Regions from separate parts of the Homo sapiens genome. Here region 2 is linked to region 1. Evidence: fine-mapped expression QTL. A gene starts in region 1. The other region holds a variant in brackets. All regions are shown on one strand. Distances are from middle to middle. Region 1 holds the start of MTMR9 (myotubularin related protein 9). Region 2 overlaps LINC00529 (long intergenic non-protein coding RNA 529).

The links.
Region 2: its variant is fine-mapped to the expression of MTMR9 in whole blood (INTERVAL, PIP 0.98).

What each region holds. Positions count from the first base shown.
Region 1 is chr8:11,280,273-11,288,272 of GRCh38, reverse strand. It overlaps MTMR9 (myotubularin related protein 9), which reads right to left and starts at 3,457. Exons shown (of 10, transcript NM_015458.4): 1 at 3,203-3,457. The coding sequence starts at 3,384. It overlaps LINC00529 (long intergenic non-protein coding RNA 529), which reads left to right and starts at 4,242. Exons shown (of 5, transcript NR_170283.1): 1 at 4,242-4,422; 2 at 6,852-6,984. RefSeq lists silencers at 3,369-3,778, 7,271-7,320 and enhancers at 3,472-3,973, 4,249-4,308, 4,399-4,488.
Region 2 is chr8:11,236,338-11,247,794 of GRCh38, reverse strand. LINC00529 (long intergenic non-protein coding RNA 529) reads left to right here. Exons shown (of 5, transcript NR_170283.1): 5 at 6-531. Among named protein-coding and RNA genes, the nearest start is that of XKR6, 40 kb to the right of the region's middle. The variant A/G (reference allele first, on the strand shown) is at 5,692.

The DNA.
Region 1 (8,000 bases):
TTATAATATATAATTATTATAATATAATTATTATTATTATATATTATAATTATTAATATATTATATATAATAATTACATGTATTAGGTGAATAGGTGAATAAATAATTATTCACCTATTCGCTGAATAATTAGGTGAATATTTAGGTGAATAATTATTTAATATAATTAGGTGAATAATTATATATATTATATAGGTGAAATATAATATATATTATATAATACGTATTATATAATATATATTATATATCATACGTATTATATACTATGTATTATATGTAATATATATTATATAATACATATATAATACATAGTATATAATACGTATGATATATAACACATATTATATAATATATAATACATATTATGTTATATATAATACGTATTATATATGTTATATATTATAATATAATATATAACATATATAATAAAATATATAATGTTATATATTATATATTATATGTATTATATAATATGTATTATATATAATATATAATAAATATATAATAAATAAATAATAAATATATAAGAAAATAATATATAATATATAATATATATTATAATATATATAATATATAATAAACATAATAAATATAAATATATCTAATAAATATATATATTTATTTCTGGACTTGCTTGATTGTCCATCTCCCTGGCCAGTACCTAAGCATCTTGTCTTAGTCACCACTGCAGCCGCACAGCTCAGACAATGCACGTGGAAAACAGGTGGATGTAAAGATTTCTTGAAAGCAGCAATTTAACAAACTCTGATCTGATGCCTCCCCTATGCTCTTTCACTACACCACGCTGCTTCCCAGGAAAAGGATAAATGTGTGTACAGTTCGTCATTCTCTCCTAACAGATTCAAAGGTCCATGGCTCATCTGCTTCTTCTTCATGTACTACAAAGCCCAGCACCTTGTAAATGCAAGGTAAAAAGGAGGAAACAAATGAGCGCAAAGTAACCACCATAAAAGGTAAATAAGAAAGGAAAGGTAGTTGATGGTCATGGAGAAACTACTCAGTTGTATTCAACGGCATCTGACCATTCAGCGGTCAATCCTTCTTTTGTTTCCTACGCGTCTATATGCCCAAGCCACAGTTAGACGTTTCGAAGGAGATAAAAATGAATTCCAGTTGTGGAATTAACAGAAGAATTTGTGAAGGAGGTAGCGGTCGAAATGGTTAAACTGAATACTCATAGACAGGTAACAGGCTCATTGCCTGTGAACTCCTGAAAGACAAGAACTGTAACATATTTTATTTACCTTGGTGTCTTAAATGCCTAACAAAACGTCCAGAACATAAAGGCATTTGGCAAATGTTAAACAAACTTGGGAGAGGCAAGGCATTCCAGCAGAAGGAAGAAGTCAATAAAATACACAGATGACAGAATACAGGACATATACCAGCACCAGTAAATAGTGAGGACTGGCTGGTAAAAAGCGTTCATGAAAGCAAGTGCAAGAAAGGCTCGTTAAAAGAAATGGCAAGAAATAAAGTGAGAAAGTAGGATAGGGCCGAGACACAGAATGCCATGAATGACTGAGGGGTTTAGATTTTCAATGAGAGACCACTGAAGACTTTTTTTTTTTTTTTTTTTTTTTTTGAGATGGAGTTTTGCTCTTGTTGCAAAGGAAGGAGTGCAGTGGCCCGATCTCGGCTCACTGCAACCTCTGCTTCCAAGGTTCAAGCGATTTTTCCGCCTCAGCCTCCTGAGTAACTGGGATTACAGGCACCTGCCACTATGCCCGGTTAATTTTTTGTATTTTTAGTAGAGACGGGCTTTCATCATGTTGGTCAGGCTGGTCTCAAACTCCTAACCTCAGGTGATCCGCTCACCTTGGCCTCCCAAAGTGCTGGGATTACAGGCGTGAGCCACCGTGCCGGGCCCACTGAAGACTTTATACAGCAAAAGGTGGCTTGAGGAGACTAATAAGAGCCCCCTGCTCATATCAATCAATCAATCTACCATGGCTTCACCCAAACTGCCTGCAATTCTACCATTAGAAATTTTTATTTTAGGCCAGGCGCAGTGGCTCACGCCTGTAATCCCAGAACTGTGGGAGGCCTAGGCGGGAGGATTGCGAGGTCAGGAGTTCAAGACCAGCCTGGTCAATATGGTGAAACCCCATCTCTACTAAAAAATACAAAAATTAGCCGGGTGTGGTGGCGCGTGCCTGTAATCCCAGCTACTCGGGAGGCTGAGACAGAAGAATCGCTAGAACCTGGGAGGTGGAGGTTACAGTGAGCCGAGATTGGCCACCGCACTCCAGCCTGGGCAATACAGTGAGATTTCGTCTCCAAAAAAAAAAAAAAAAAAAAAAGAAAGAAAGAAAGAGATTATTATTTTAAGGCATATCCTCTGTACGAATCTTCCTAATATCCAAATTATCCTGTGAGGCAATAGAAAATGTTGTCGTCATTCATTTATACTTCTGTGTAAAACGGATAATCAGTTTGCCCTCTCCTGGCTAGCGAGTAGCCACTAAGGAGATGGGAATTTTGAATGCAGATGAAAGTTTAACTTTTTGACTTCGAGGCACTGCCTTGGAAAGATAAAGTCTGGAGTACAAAAAGAAAAAAGAGGTTAACTGGTCCATGCCTTTCCTTGAGAGCCAACCCTGTTCTTTCAGCAAGCAGAATTGAGTAAAGATGAAGAGAAGACATCAGAATCTCCCTTAGTGAGAATTAAATTTTGATGACCCAGAAGGTAAGAAATAATATGATACACTGAACATTTTTCAGAAATTAAAAAAATGGTTCTGTAGCATGTAGACACTCATAACTTTATAATCTGTTTAGTTTTCCTCAGAAATGGTAAAGACTTTACCTAAATCACATCCAATCACTTCATGAACGGTGACTGACAATACCAATTCAAGGAATACGATGGGGCAAGAAGAAGAAGAAATTTATAAAGACAATGCCGAAAATCCACCCAAATGGTGTTACGAACCAGAAATGATCATCAGGATGGTACCAGCCACACGATAACCCTGAGAACTCCATCCAGGTTTAATGGAAACCGGGTCCTCCATCTGGACGGGTTTCAGCTTGGTAAATCCTGATTCTAGGCCACAGAGGGCTCATCTTGCCGGCTAGCTGGGCGGCAGGCTGCGCGGAAAACGCCAGGAAGTATTTCCCGGGGCGCCCACAAGGGACCCCCGGCTCCCTGCGGAGCTGGGGTGGGGCGGGCACTCACCGCTTGTCGATGGCGTCGATGTTTGAATGGAGGAGCCACAGCTCCTCCGTATTGTCCTGCCGGGAGGACAGGATCAAGTGGTGGCCCGTCAGGCACAGGGTGCCCTCGACAGCCGGGTAGAAAGGCCGGTGCAGCACCACATTGTCCACCCGCGGGGTCTTAATCAGCTCCGCAAACTCCATGCTCCCCCGCGGCCGGAGCCAGGGAACCGAGCCCGGTAGGTGCGAGGCGGTTACCCCGCCGCAGGGAAGTAGCGGAAACACCCGGCGCGGGGCTGGCCCGTGGGGCGGGGCGGGCCGGGCGGTGAGGCTGGGCCCGCCCCAGGCTGGGTGGGCGCGGCGAGGCCTACAGCCGCCGGCACCGGCCGCGGGGAGACAGGGGCTGGGGCTGGACGAGGCCCAAGCGCCTCTCCCGCACCGCGCGGTTCACCAGGCCTAGGACTCGGCCACAGAGAACCCCTCTCCACAGGCCCAAGGACCGCCGCTGCCGTTGGGCTCCGGGTCCCGCGTTGGCAAGCGGAGGGCAGTAGGAGAAAGCCGCCTCAGAATCCGCTTCCACGCCCTGGCCGCTAGGGACTCCTAGCGGAAGTGGCTACTCGCTGCTGGAGCCCACAACAACTCCGGGCGGAAGCAGCAGGTCTCGAAACTCGGAAGACGCGGAAGTCGCAGCCGGAAGTTGGTCCTCGCTAGGTCCTCTGGAAATGCCTCCGGAAACACAGCCAGACCAGAAGATGTGTGTTCCTACGAGAAAAAAAGCTTGTCTTTGCCTTCACGCCCTCCCGCTGCCTTTCTTAACCACCTACAAATATTCCTTATCAGAAGAGGTCCGGGAAGAGGGAGGAGGTCCCTGTCTTGCCTTCCTCCGCTTGAGTAGTATCCCCTCCAGAAGCTCTTCAGAGCGTGGGGCTGCTGTAAATTGTGATAATTGTTATGCATTAGCCCTGAAGACATGGCAAGTAGGGGATGGAGGCGGTGACTGTGACCTTACGGAATCCTCCAGGGGTCAGGGAGGGACACAGGGCCACTCCACAGGCTCTCCGAGAGCGCCGCGCCACGAGGTGTAACCTGGAGCAAGAAAGAGGAAAAACAGGAATACCTGTGAGAGGAACCCAAGTACATGCAGTGCACAGAAGAGCAAGTCACTTGACTTGCTGGCGGCCACCCCGTTAATCTGCAGCAGAGCCTGGACTTCAGTCTGCATCTGTGAAACCCAGCGCATGGGTGCGTTGGTCACCACCGCACAGCCTCCCCGTCAGACACCCACGTTTCGCCAAAAATTTATTCAAATAATTACTCCTTTGCTTGTTCCTTTCCCACCGCCCACTTCTGACATTTTTATTCAAAAGTAGGAAATAGAAGAGAAATATGTTTGAGTGCTGGTCTGCTGTGACTTCATTGACCTTTTAAATCCTCACCATCTAGTACCTAAGCACAGCGAGTTGGACAAACTCTCACAGTATTCACAAAGTAAATTGCCACAACCTCATCAGCTCATCCAACACTTGTCCATGCTTTTGATTTTGTCCTTCTTAAAATGTACCCTTCTTAAAATAAACCACTTTATAGACTTGTTTTAAGTGAGATACGTAAATGCCTACCAACTTTCCTTGGTGTCTTTGTTGCATAGTTACTGTAGACTGAATAATAGTTGCCATTTTTTATATTTTTGCAGTTTAATTGCTTTCGTCCAAATAGATGGAATCACTTCCTTTGTAATATATGAAGTGTTTTAATTCATTTTTATAACTAGCATTCCTGACAGCACAGGTATCCACCCCCTGAAGTTCCCATTCTATAGAACAAAATAGCAAATAAGTATTTTTTTTTTGTTCCATAATGGACACCCAGTATACACCCAGTATACACAGGGACACCGCATACAGGGAATCAGCTTTATTTTACAACAGAGCTTCACTTTACCCCTCTGGCAATTAATAGATTCTGGGTATTTATTAAGAACTTTAAATTTAATGCAAAGACTGTTAAATACCACCAGCTCAGCTCTGGCAAAGGACTGTTGGCTTTGTTTATCTCCTATCTTCATCCAGATACACTGCCATCCCTATCCCAGCCCGATCTTGGGTCCTTGAAAAAAATGACCTATCATTCCAACTACCAGGGAGGAACTCCCTTTGAATTAATGAATCTGGATGACTTATAAGACTTCAAAAGTATGGAAATGACAAAGGTTAAAATGACAGGATGAGCAGTAAACCCTCTCCAGTCCAATCAGAGCAACCTTTTTGAGGGTGCATTCCCACAGAAACCCATTAGGGGCCCAACATCAACATACACAGAGCTAAAATTCCAGATGCCACTTTGTATTGAAAGAAGCCAAAATTCTGTTCAGGTCGTGGGAACTTGAAGTCTTCAATGCAACCACACCCCAGAAATTAACCCTCACACAATCATGTAAGCTATGCAATTAACCAAACTGCATCGTTTAGAAAACCTGTATGCTTTTCATGGAAACCATCCCTAGTTAAGGGCACTTTAAAGGATGCACAGTCTAAGTACTGTGAAGGTGGGCCCACTAGCTGGGTTGACATTTTCGCTTGGCCACTTTAGTAGGAAACTTAACCACTTGGGAAAGTGAAAACAACAAGCTAACCCACATGTTCACCATGGAAAACAATTTTTGTCTTGAAAAACAAGGAACCTTTTCCCTGTGCAGCACCAGTTCCTACTGTGTTTACCAGCCAATTGGACTGGAACCTGTACACTTGGTTTTTAGCCTCCGAAATCAATATAGCTCCCGGCCGGGCGCAGTTTCTCACGCCTATAATCCCAGCACTTTGGGAGGCCGAGGCAGGCGGATCACCTGAGGTCAGGAGTTCGAGACCAGCCTGGCCAACATGCTGAAACCCTGTTTCTACTAAAAATACAAAAAATTAGCCGGGTATGGTGGCGCACACCTGTAATCCCAGCTACTCTGGAGACTGAGACAGGAGAATCACTTGAACCCTGGAGACAGAGGTTGCAGTGAGCCAAGACTGAGCCACTGTGCTCCAGCCTGGGTGACAGAGGGAGACTGTCTCAAAACAAACAAACTATATATATATGTGTATATATATATATATATTTAGAGAGAGAGAGGGAGAGCTCTCAACAACCAATCCCTCATTATACCTTTAACTGCAACCGCCAGACACAAATGAGCAATCCAACTCAAACGCCTTTTTGTTGGGCTAGGAATAACAGTGAGAGCAGGAACGGGAGTTACCGGGCTTGCAACTTCCCTATACTGTTACCAGCACTTTCCAAGGATTTTGTGGAAAGCTTGGATGACATTGCCCAAAGTATCGTCACAACACAAACTCAAACAGACTCCTTGGCAGCAGTTGCTTTACAAAATAGAAGGGGACTGGATCTCCTAACTGCTGGAAAAGGTGGCTTATGTCTTTTTCTAGAGGAAGAATGCTGTTTTTATGTCAACCAATTAGAATTAGTAAGGGATGCCACCCAGAAATTAGCTGACCAGGCTTCTAAGATACGACAACAGCTGTCCAAGTCGTGGTCCTCCTGTTCAAAAATGCTAATTAGGGGTTCATGAGTCCTTCCTCTGACTGGCTCGTTGTTAATTATACTTGCCTTGGTTTTTGGACCATATTTATTAAATACATTAACCAAATTAATTTCCTCTCGCCTAGAGACCATCAAGCTTCAGATGATCATGCAACAAGGTTTCCAGCCAGTTCAGGTGAAGACACCACTACTGGCCATCAAGAAGCTACCCTGTATCCACTAGACAGAGCAGAGTGAGAGTTCTGTGATCCCAAATAGGTAGGCACCGCACCCCAAGTCAGCATGAAGCAGTTACAGAAGAAAGACCATTGGTCCCTCTGCCTCCCATAAAGATTTATGGGGATCATGTCTCACAGCGGGAAAATGAGACAGGAGAATAGGGTCTAGAGGCAGGGAACCTAAGGCCAATTCTCACTGACTTCCTAGAACTGAATCAGAGGGGAAACCCCACCTCTTCACACGAATGTAACGAAAGGATCAGAGGCTACTCCCTTTGCACTGCACTGCAAATGAAAAATGGAAAGTACCTCTGATTGGTCCCCTCCCACAACCATTCAGACTGGTTGCAGGCCAAGTCTTCATGTGTAACTTTGTAACTACCGTCACTTCAGACTCTGATTGGTCACCTCCCATGATCAGTCAGACTTGTGACGGGCCACTCCTTCATTTACATAGGGTGTAACCAAGTAACCAATGGGAAACCTCTAGAGGCTATTTAAACCCCATGCTGCACGATGGCTCACACCTGTAATCCCACCACTTTGGGAGGCTGAGGAGGGTGGATCACAAGGTTAGGAGTTCCAGACTAGCCTGGCCAACCGACATGGTGAAACCCTATCTCTACTAAAATTACAAAAATTAGCCAGGTGTGGTGTGGGCCTGTAATCCCAGCTATTGGGGAGGCTGAAGCAGGAGAATTGCTTGAACCTGGGAGGTGTAGGTTGCAGTGAGCCAAGAATGTGCCACCGCACTCCAGCCTGGGTGACAGAACAAGACTCCGCCTCAAAAAAATAAAAAAATTAAGCCCCAGAAAATTCTGTAACCAGCGCTCTTGAGCCACTTGCTTGAGCCCGCTCCCGCTCTGTGGAGTGTACTTTTGTTTCAGTAAATCTATGCTTTTGTCGCTTCACTTTTTTGTTGCTTTGTTTGTGAATTTTGTCCAATTCTTTGTTCAAAATGCCAAGAACCTGGGTGATTTGTAGTCAGTACTCTCCACCAGTAACAATAATATTGTTGCACCTGAGAGTCCAGTCTAAAAACAAGAACCAACAGAG
Region 2 (11,457 bases), 42 kb after region 1:
TTTAGATGTAGGGGTTGGAGACAGTTGTCGCTCAAGGTGCAAACTCCGGGCTGGCGCTGTGTGTGAACAGATAACAACAAAATGTATGTGGCTGAGTCCACTAGGAAGACGCTTCTGTACCACATGGAGTTCTCTGAATTAACTTCCAGATATATTAAAATTATTAATGGTAAGTAAGAAATGTATCAAATTGAAGCTTACATACATATTGCTAAGATGCCATCATGTCTGCAGAGATTATTTGGAACTTTGAACAACAAAAGATTTTTTTTTTTTTTTGCAGAACAGTATTTTATCACTGATGTTATTTAGAGTTGCTAGCACTTGGTGATATCACAAGCGAACTGACTTTTAGTCAGCTGTGTTATTGTGTTTAAATTCTCTACAAACATCCCTCATTGCCTGCCTCAGGGGCAGGCGGCCCCTGCAGCTCTGTCTTGTGTATGCAGCTGATTTAAAGCCATGGCAACATCACAGTTAACACTATCTATGCACCTGTAAGAAGTGTTTAATTAAAACTAACAGTCTTGAAGTTGAGCGTCTTTATTTTAGGTGTAGGACCTCTCAGGGGTGAAGAGGAAAGCAAATGGAGAGTCTGCCAAGTCTTTTTGCTGACACCAGTGCTTAGGATCTTGAGAGCATGTTTTACAAATTGGGTGTTTGGGGCAGGGGGAGTCTGGACAACAGTTTTTCCAAGTTTCAGGCTAGTGTTTGGCACCCTCTAGTGGAAAATTTGAAAAGAGAATGATCCGATACTGTATAAAAAATGAATAGTTTATCATATAGCTTATTCATCCTTTATTAAGTACCATGCACTGAGCTAAGTCCTTTGTGTGCAATATCTAATCCTTACAACTACCTATACATTAGGAATATGAGGTCAGCGTTACTAATTATAGAATAAGCTCAGAGAGGTCAAGTAAATTGACCACAGCCACACAGCAAGGGGTGGAGCTGCTTGTCTTTCCTCTCTCCAGAGACATATGGAGTGAGCATACTTGGCATATGTAGCACAATATTTCAAGCTCCTGACCCCCATGGACACACTACCAGCTCCACACCTCAGAGCCTGGGGGCTCGAGGAGTGCCCACCCTGAACCATACTTCCAGAATTATAGTTACTTGCACAATTCTGATTGTAAGATCTAAAAGTAATTTTTTTTTTATTTTTCCCTTAAAGCTTGTGATTTGCCCTCAAAAGTAAATGCCTTGGCTTGGTTTGCCATATTTCCTTCTTAGATTCATGTTCCTTTGTGTCTTATGTTCTGGTCAGGTCACGGCAATGGCCTGCGATAGTAACTCCCAGACTTTAAATCTCATTGGCAATCTCCTTTACCTGTGACACCCCAGAGATCTTAGAATCGAAGTGAGCTCGTTCTGGGAGTGCTTTGGGAGTTATCCAATTTAGTGGTTTGTCATCATGGATCTCTTGAAAATCTTTGAAGGAAGTTTTGGTTGCCATGATGATTGGAGGGCACTAGTGATGTTTAGTCGGGAGGACACTGGATATCCTGCAATGCTCAGGACAGGTCACACAAGGAGAAATTGACCCAGGACTGGTAAGACTTTCCATCATCCTACCGGACATGCTGAGACAGAAGGCAGGCTTCAACTTGTGGTGGGATTTCAAGTTCAGAGACACATTTGCTGTGATGTGTCATTATTACTGCCACATCCCATGTCGTAACAGCAGCCCCTTTGGGGTAAGCAACGTGTGTTCATCCATTCTCACACTGCTATAAAGAACTACCTGAGACTGGTAATTTACGAAGAAAACAGGTTTAATTGACTCACAGTTCTGCAGACTTAACAGGAAGCGTGGGTAGGAGGCCTCAGGAAACTTATAATCATGGTGGAAGGTGAAGGGGAAGCAAACAAGTCTTTTAAACCATCAGATCTTGTGAGAACTCACTATGGTGAGAACAGCAAGGGGGAAACCCACCCCCACGATCCAATCACCTCCCATCAGGTTCCTACCCAAACATGTGGGGATTACAATTTGACATGAGACTTAGTGGGGATACAGAGCCAAACCATATCACAAGGCCCAAGTGTCAAAGCATGAGAATTCAGAAAGTAAAAGACATGGTTAATATACTGCCCAAGTATTCACATACCGAAATACATATTACTGTATTATAACTTACTTTTACTTCAACTTCTGATTGATTTACATTTTTTTCTTTTAATTTTTGAGACAGGGTCTTGTTCTGTCACCCAGGCTGGAGTGCAGTGTTGTAATTTCAGCTTATTGCAGCCTCGACCTCCTGGGTTCAAGTGATCCTCCCACCTCAGCCTCCTGAGTAGCTGGGACTACAGGTATGCATCAGCACACCCAGCTAGCTTTCATATTTTTAGGAGATGGGATTTCGCCATCTTGCCCAGTCTGGTCTCAAACTCCTGGGCTCAAGTGATCCGCCCACCTTGGCCTCCCAAAGTGCTGGGATTATAGGCATGAGCTGCAACATGCCAATGACATAGAGTTTGTGTTCCATGTTTTCGTTCAACTGAGTCAGCACACTCTTCATTCATTCCCTAAATCCTTCTGCCTCTCCATTACCTCTTGTGCTTCTTCATCAGTCAAATAGGGGCGGTGGTTTGTTTTCTGCTTTTTCTATCCGCTGAAGATCCCAACTTCTCCATAAAGGCTTTCCTGATTAACTAGCAGTGAGATCGTCATTCTCTCCCATGTACTTCACCTGGGCCTGTGGATGCCCTCAGCCAGTACTTCTCAAGTTTCCACGGGCTTGAGAATCCACTGGGGACTCTGTGAAGATGCAGGCTTGGTGTGTCTACAAGTCCCCAGGAGGTGCTGAAGCTTCTGGGATGGAGACCATATTCAAAAAGCAAAACTCTCAGATTAAACCGATGGTTCCCAAACCAGGTTTTTCATCACAGGGACCTGGGCAACTTTTGAAAAATACCCTCCCGAGCCCACGCCAGACCCATCCTATCGGAATCTCTGAAAGCAGAGCCCTAGAATGGGATTTCTAGACGCACTCCAGACAATTCTGGAGGCACTCTCCCAAACACCAGCCTCTGACCTAATGCTTAGGTGAACTGCAAGGTGTTACAATAACTTAATTTGAAATTCGCCCCCAGAAGTAAGCACTTTGCAGACTGTTGCTAACCTAGAGTCATTGTGACATGTTTTCATGCTTAGGCCAGACTCCAGGAACTATGCTTTCTCAATTACAGAACCAAGGCAGATGGGCAAATGATCTACAACGATCTTGTGATTTTAATGTCTTATATACGTGTACTTATACATCTCCTAAGATGATCGTAGTAGTTTCCAGAAACCCAAATTAAGACATTTTACTGCAACAAGATTTAAAAACTAGGGCTTTGACGTCTATTTTATGAGAAGTTCATATTTGCATAATTAGGAGTGTCCTACACTTTCTTGGGCAGCACGTGTCAGTCAACAGCTGCAAGTCATTCTGGCTCCTTGCCCAACGGAAGAGAGAGCATTGCTTAAAACAGTCTCTGCCCTACCTCCAGAGAATGTGATAGAAAGCGAGTGACAGACTAAGAGCAGAGGCGAATCCCCAAATTAGATGCCCTTCCAAGCTACAAAAACACTTTAACAACTTTTCCAAAAGATCAGAGCAGAGCATCACAGAGATGAGCTGAGCCACCTGCAGACACAGTTTCTCCAATGTGACCAAGAAACGACATCTGGGTCTTCCTGATGGAAGATGCACACAGGCTGCTGAGAAAACTCTGGAGATGCCTCTGACAGGAACAAGAAGTTCCAGAAGGCAGAGTCTTCCCTCCTCCCCAGGCTGCCTCGTGGGCAGAGATGTGCTGTGTCTTCAGGCCCACATGTTCCCCCAAAGAAATGCTCCCTTTATTTGAGAAGACAAGTGAATGTTGCTCAGGTTGGGGGCAGGGGTTATGGGCTCAGCTTGATCCTAAGTGCCATCAGGCAGGGCCAGGTGTGTTTGGTTCCCCCCATCTCCCCAGCACCCCCTACCATGCCTCACTCACAGCACCCACTCGGGACACTTGCTGACTGACTGACCAGCTATGTAGTGAGATGCTTTTAAACTCTGGAAGTGCCTTAGCTGATATGCTGCCCAGCTACCTTGGATTAACCGAGAGGGCAGAAGGCTGAGTGATGATGTCAGGCAAGGTGTTTGGTTAGTTTTCCACATTCTTCTGGAGTTAGGTCTTCACAGTGAGGTGTAGTTTTTGTGTGATGTCGTATTAAGCAAGCCTTTTTATTCTGAGGCTTGGCCATATTGGGGACTTGTTGATGCTGGAGGGACTGCCCCACCCAGGGTTAGCCAATTCTTAGTGGAAGCAAAGAGCTCTTCTGTGAGCATGCCTTTGACATGCGAACCAAGCCACCCAGACCCCACCTCCCAACCACCTCCTTTGTGGGGCTCCTGCACTCTGGGCCACCATCACTGCAAGGCTACGTTCCAGGCAACTAGGAGCAGCCTTTATGCCCCAGAGCCCACTGAAAGGATTCACACTAGCCAATCCTGAGCCTGCTCACCTGCCTCACCTATTCTTTCCTGCAGAAGTCACAGTAAAGGCTATTACCCACACTTCTCCTCTCTACCTTTGCCTCCTGGTCAACCCCAGTGCTTCTCCATGTGTCCCCCACTCCCACCATCACGTGGTGTGGCATGCCTTGCCCCTTCTCTTGGGAACTGTGAGTAACAAACTATCTTTTCAATGGCAGTTGCCTTCTGAATCATGTTGAAACCTACATTTCACAATAGACATATTGTCAAGTTCCAGGACACCAGATATTTATGTTTAAGTGTAGGTCCCAGGACCATTTCCATTATCTAGAAGGAATATTTCCTAGGGATAATAAATAGCATAGCTTATTGAAACGGATTAGGGGCCAGTGTCGATCAGAGTTCAATCAGAGAAGCAGAGGCACTAGCATACACATCTCACTAGATACACCACCAGGGTACTTGTATGGCAAGCAGCCTTGTAAGAGAGCAATAGGGTTTCCATCAGCAGCAAAGGGCAGGCTTGTTTACTGTCTAAAATGATAAAGATTTCGTCTCCCTCCAGAGCAAAGTTCATACAAGCTTACTGCCCAATATAAAAGGCTTGGGCTTCCAAAGCTTGAGCTTCTTCTCTAGGAAAGTCACCCACTGCCTCTGGAGATAACACCTGGCTCTTGTCACATTAGCCTGCAGGAATTGGGACTGGGGAGATGAACACAAATGCTGACACTTGGTTACTGCTATTGCTATGAGTAATGAAGTCCTTTGTCTCTGCCTCTGTTGTGTCTTCTGCCAGCAACCTTGAAAGTGTGGCAGGCTAACTTGTTAGACTGCAAGTAGGGTGAAATCTCAAACCTTTCCCAGCTCTTGATATTTCCTAACCAACACCAGTCTCATGGGTCAGGAAGGAAAGGGGCTTGTTCCTCTCTCTGTCACTGGTCAGTGATAATGGCCTCCTTAAGGGATCACTCTACATCCACCTCTGGAGGGACAGACATCAGGAGTCCAAGCCAGGATGCTCATACAAAGGAAGAGTTGCTGATGAATGAGCCATGCAGGTCTCACTATCAGCAAAACCAGGCAAAACATGCAACTCCTTTTGGGAAAGCCCCTGTGTTCGTCTGCTGAGGCTGCCATAACAAAATGCTATAGACTGTATAACTTAACAGAAATGTATTTTCTCACAGCTCTGGAGCCTGGAAGTTCCACATTA[A/G]GGTGCCAGCAGATTTGGCTCCTGGTGAGGGCTCTCTTTCTGGCTTACAGACAGCCACCTTCTTGCGCCATCCTCACATGGCCTTTCCTTTGTGGGTAAGTGGAGAGAGAGCCCTCTCATATCTTTTACTCTTCTGGTAAGGACACCAGCCCCATCAGATTAGCGCCTCACTCTTTTTAAACCTTAAATCACTACTCTAAACGTTCTATCTCCAAACACAGTCACATTAGAGGTTAGTGTTTCAACATATGAATTTGGGAGGGGACCCAATTCAGTCCATGGAAGCCCCTATCTGGGGAACTCACTCCCAATATTTCAATGTAAGTTATTTCTATTTTCCATAAGTGTTGGCCAGCTGAGAAATAAAGAGAAAGAGTACAAAGAGGAATTTTACAGCTGGGCCGCCAGGGGAGACATCACGTATCGGTAGGACCGTGATGCCCACCTGAGCCTCAAACCAGCAAGTTTTTTATTAAGGGTTTCAAAAGGGGAGGGAGGGGGTGTCATAACAGAGAGTAGGTACAAAGATCACATGCTTCAAAGGGCAAAAAGCAGAACAAAGATCACATGCTTCTGAGGGAACAGGACAAAACGGCAAAAGCAGGACTACTGATAAAGGTTTATGTTCAGCGGTGCACGTATTGTCTTGATAAACATCTTAAACAACAGAAAACAGGGTTCAAGAGCAGAGAACCGGTCTGACCACAAATTTACCAGGATGGAATTTTTCCCCACCCTAGTAAGCCTTTGGGTACTGCAGGAGACCAGGGCATATCTCAGTCCTTATCTCAACCACATAAGACAGACATTCCCAGAGTGGCCTTTTACAGACCTCTCCCCAGGAATGCATTCCTTCCCCAGGGTATTAATATTAATATTCCTTGCTAGGAAAAGAATTTAGCGATATCTCTCCTACTTGCACATCCATTTATAGGCTGTCTGCAAGAAGAAAAATATGGCTCTTTTTGCCCAGCCCTGCAGGCAGTCAGACCTTATAGTTGTCTTCCCTTGTTCCCTAAAAATCGTGGTTATTCTGTCCTTTTGCAAGGTGCACTGATTTCATATTGTTCAAACACACATGTTTTACAATCAATTTGTACAGTTAACACAATTATCACAGTGGTCCTGAGGTGACGTACATCCTCAGTTTATGAAGGTAACAGGATTAAGACACAAGTAAAGACAGGCATAAGAAATTATAAAAGTATTATTTGGGAACTGATAAATGTCCATGAAATTGTCACAATTTATATTCCTCTGCCACGGCTCCAGCCAGTCCCTCCGTTCGGGGTCCCTGACTTCCTGCAATAAGGCCCCAAATAGCTGTGAGTGAATTCAATCCCATTCACACTCAACTTAAAAATGTGATCATATATCTTCAACCATCTGCTTGAGGGAGGAGGAGCAAAAGGCAAGTTCTGAAGAAGACAAAATGGAGAGAAGGACTTAACAAAGTGCAAGTAGCCCTTTGGCTTCCCAGGCAGGTTTCTCACAATTTTCTCCATGGTCTTTTGCTGCTCAAGTCAACATCTCATGCCATGGTGTTTTCCTGTGGAAAGCTGTTGCCCACTTTGTACCTTAGAGGAAGTGTGTGAAGAGCAGGTCATCCAAGCTCCATTCACATCATCATGTGGAGAAGGTACATAGAGGAAGTGGCCAAGATGGGGGAAGAGCTCTGAGGCAGAGCTGGTGGGAGTCAGAGCTCCAGCAGAAGCTGCTTGGAGTGGAATATGGGGGTCCTTGTTACCAAGCCAGGGAGTCACGAACATTTGTGTGGGATGCTGAGCAGGAAAGCAGCATGCTCAGACGTGTGTTCGAGGAAGATTGTGGTAGAAGTACCATGCAGCTGGACCAGAGGGTGAGGAAAAAGGCACAGAGAGAAGTTAGGAGTCTAACACAATAGCTCATGTTATGGGCTGCATGGTGTCTCCCCAAATTCCTATGTTGAAGCCTTGACCCCCAGTAACTCAGAATGGGCCTGTATTTGGAAATAGGGGTTTTAAAGGGTAATTTAGTTTAAATGAGGTTATTGGGATGGGCCCTCATCTAATATGACTGGTGTCCTTATAAAAACAGACTACGGGCCGGGTGTCGTGGCTCACACCTGTCATCCCAGCACTTTGGGAGGCTGAGGTGGGCTGATCATAAGGTCAGGAGATCGAGACCATCCTGGCTAACACAGTGAAACCCCATCTCTGCTAAAAATACAAAAAAAAAATTAGCTGGGCATGGTGGCAGGCACCTGTAGTCCCAGCTACTGGGGAGGCTGAGGCAGGAGAATGGCATGAACCCAGGAGGCAGGGCTTGCAGTGAGCTGAGATCGTGCCACTGCACTCCAGCCTGGGCAACAGAGCGAGACTCTGTCTCAAAAAAAAAAGAGATTACGATACAGCCATGCACAGAGGGATGACTGTGTGGGGACAAAAAAGAAGACAGCCATCTGCAAGCCAAGGAGAGAGGTCTCGGGAGAACCCAACTCTGCTGATATCTTGAACTTGGACTTCCAGCCTCCACAACTGTGAGAAAGAAATTTCTCTTGTTGATAAGCCACCCAGACTGTGCTGTTTCATTATAGCAGCCCAAATGGACTAAGACATCATCTCTCTGCCAAAAGAGAAAGGGGAGTGAGTGGATTCCAGGACTGAGGAGAGTCAACCTGGAGAGGTGTCTAAGGGATGCCAGGCAGCCAAAAAAAGTACACTGGGGCCTTGTCAGTAAGACTGGTGGACTAGACAGCAGTGGAGCCTGAGAGGCAACAGGTTAGTGCTCCAAAACTTGTGAGAGGGAGGCAGGTGAGAAAAGGGGGACTCGGGATGCAGCATTAACACCAGCAAATGCAAGGCTCATGAGACTGGAGAGAACCTCAGACACCATACCGAAATCTTTGGTTAGCTGGCTCCAGTCTTGCTTGGAGATGGGGTCAGCAAGGTCCTTCAGAATGCCAGTGAACACAGGTCTCTAAGTAGCTCCCATCGCGGGCTCCAAGTCCTGTAGAAGAGAAGTCAGCAAGGTCAATGCATGAAGCCCCTTGGTGCATATCTGAGATATTTTCTCTACTACGGTAGCAAAGATGTAGTGCATCTGTACTTTCCAATATATATCTACGACTTTTGGTACATTCGACAGACATCTGTTCCGTGCTCTTAAGCACCTGCCAGCCATGGAGTTTCAGATGCATTTCTTAGATAAGCGAGCTTCTTTCCCATTGCAAATCACAGAGTGACAAAAGCACAGATCCTTGCTAGGGCTGCAGGCTGCTGGCAGTGTCACCCAAAGGCTGCTTTCTAAGGAAAACATTCTGCTGGGGTTTTTTTTTTGGACAACACGGTTTCATGTGCTCATTTATTTCACACCCATGTTTTAAAAATTATTCTTTTCGGCTGGAAATATATCTTCACCCATGATAATAGATGGAAATTGTGAGCTGCTTACAGTTCCCAAGTGACATTAGCATATGTACTGAGTTTCTTCTTGAATCCCACCCCTCCTCGCCTTTTTGCTTTTCCATCTTTTTCTGGTTCTTAGGAGGAAATTTTTAAAAGAACACACTGCCTGGATAATATATCTCATACTCACCTTCCTTCCTCCAACCTTCTTACTGGAGAAGGTGGAGAAGCTTCAGATTCCAGTCCTTCAACTTTATTTTCGGCCTGTAGGAGCATCCTATTCACACCTGTGCCCTCCTCCCCCTTTTCCTGACTTTGCCTAGCCAGCCCATACCTTCTCCTGCCTGGACAATTACAATGTCCTTACCTTCTCCAAGAGGCCCTGCAATCTTCAGTGTTTCCTTATAATCCATCATCCACACTGCAAACAGAGGTATCTCTCTAAAATTGTAAACTGGGTTGTGTTAAATTCTACTTCATGCTTCGGTGATCCTGTTACCTACAGAATACATCCAACCTCCTTACCACCATACTCATCTCTCACCCTCCTGCCATTTTACTCCAATACTGCATGTGATTTCAAGTCATTCTGCTGAGGCACATGGTTCTTTTCTCTTCCCCAAATACCCTTTTCTTCCTTGTCCAGCTGGCCCACCCCCAGTCACTCTTTGGGTCATGGCTCAAGCGTTGCTTACTCTTGGAAACATCTCAGCCCTCCTAAGCTGAACTGATCACTTCATCAGAGGCTCCTAGACAAACCCTGGCATGTGCCCCTGCGTGTCTCCAATGTCTGCCGCCTTGATGTCACCTGCTTGACCAAGTACCTGGCTACAAGGGCTGACATTCCTCTTCTTTGCAACTCCAGCATGAGCCCAGTGTTGGGCTCAAAGTAGACTCTTTTAAAATATATTGAGGCCAGGTGCAGTGGCTCATATGTGTAATGTCAGCACTTTGGAAGGCTGAGGTGGGAGGATAGCTTGGGTCAAGGAGTTCAAGACCAGCCTGGGCAACATAGTGAAACCTTGTCTCTACAAAAAATAAAAAAAATCAGCCAAGCATGATGGCACATGCCTGTAGTCCCAGCTACTCAGGAGGCTGAGATGAGATTATCGCATGAGCCCAGAGTAGTTCATGATTGCAGTGAACTGTGACCATACCACTGTATTCCAGCCTGTACTCCTGGGTGCCAGAGTGAGACTCTGTCCCCCAAAAAATAAATAAATAAAAATAAAATAAACTATTTGAATGAAAAAGATACATTGAAATGGTTTAGGTGGCTGATGGCAGTCGTAGGTCCTACTCTCTGTGTTTATTGGAAGGGTCACTCCAATTAAACAAATACTGATGGACCACTCATTCTGTGCCAGGTTCTCTCTGAGTACTGAAGGTACCCAGATGAACAAAACATCATTCCTTCACTGAGTGAGCACACACCTGAGCAGTGAAGACCAGCAAGGAATATCAATAGCACAAAATGATAGCTGCTATACTTATAGGAGCAGAATACCATGCCAAAGGCTCCCGAGCATAGCTGCACATCCAAATCTAGGAGTTTTAAAAAAATGTATGTCTTGATCTTATTGTTTATGTATTACTGCTTCACAAATTACTCCAAAACTTAGCAGCTTGAATCACAAACCTTTATTATATCACGACGTTGCTGTGGGTCTAGAGTGTGGCAGCAGTTTTCCTAGGTGGTGTTAGTATTGACACTGGGATTTCTCATGAGATTGCAGTCAAGATGTCAGTAGGGGCTTCTGTTATCTGAAGTCTTGACTGGGGCTGGAGCCTCTCACATAGCTGGCGAGGTGGTGCTGGCTGTTGGCAGGAGACCTCAGTTCCTCACCACGCGGACCTTTCTATAAAGCTTCTTGTGTGTCCTCATGATATGGTGGCTTTCCTCAGAGAGAGAGAGAGAGCAAGATAGAAGCCAAAATGCCATATATGGCCTAGATCCAGAAGTCACATTGCATTGTTTCCACAATATCCTACTGGTTACACAGGGCAGCTCTATTTGGTGAGTGAGATGGCTACACAAGATTGTGGATACTAGGAAGTAAAGATCAGAGGGAGCCATTGGAGGCCGGCTACAGCCTGACTCTTACCCCAGGGAATGAATTCAGTGTGCCTGGGTAGGGCCCAAGGTTCTGCTTATTTTGCCTTTTCTTTTCATTATCGTGGCTTTTTAACTTTTTATTGAAATATAATATACATACAGAAAAGTATACAAGTCACAAGTGTTATCACAAGGTGCATAATTTTTTACAAAAGACACACACCCATGGAATCTATACCCAGATCAAGAAACAGAGCATTGTTCAGGTGCAGTGGCTCATGCCTGTAATGTCAGCACTTTGGGAGGCTAAGGTAAGAGGATCAC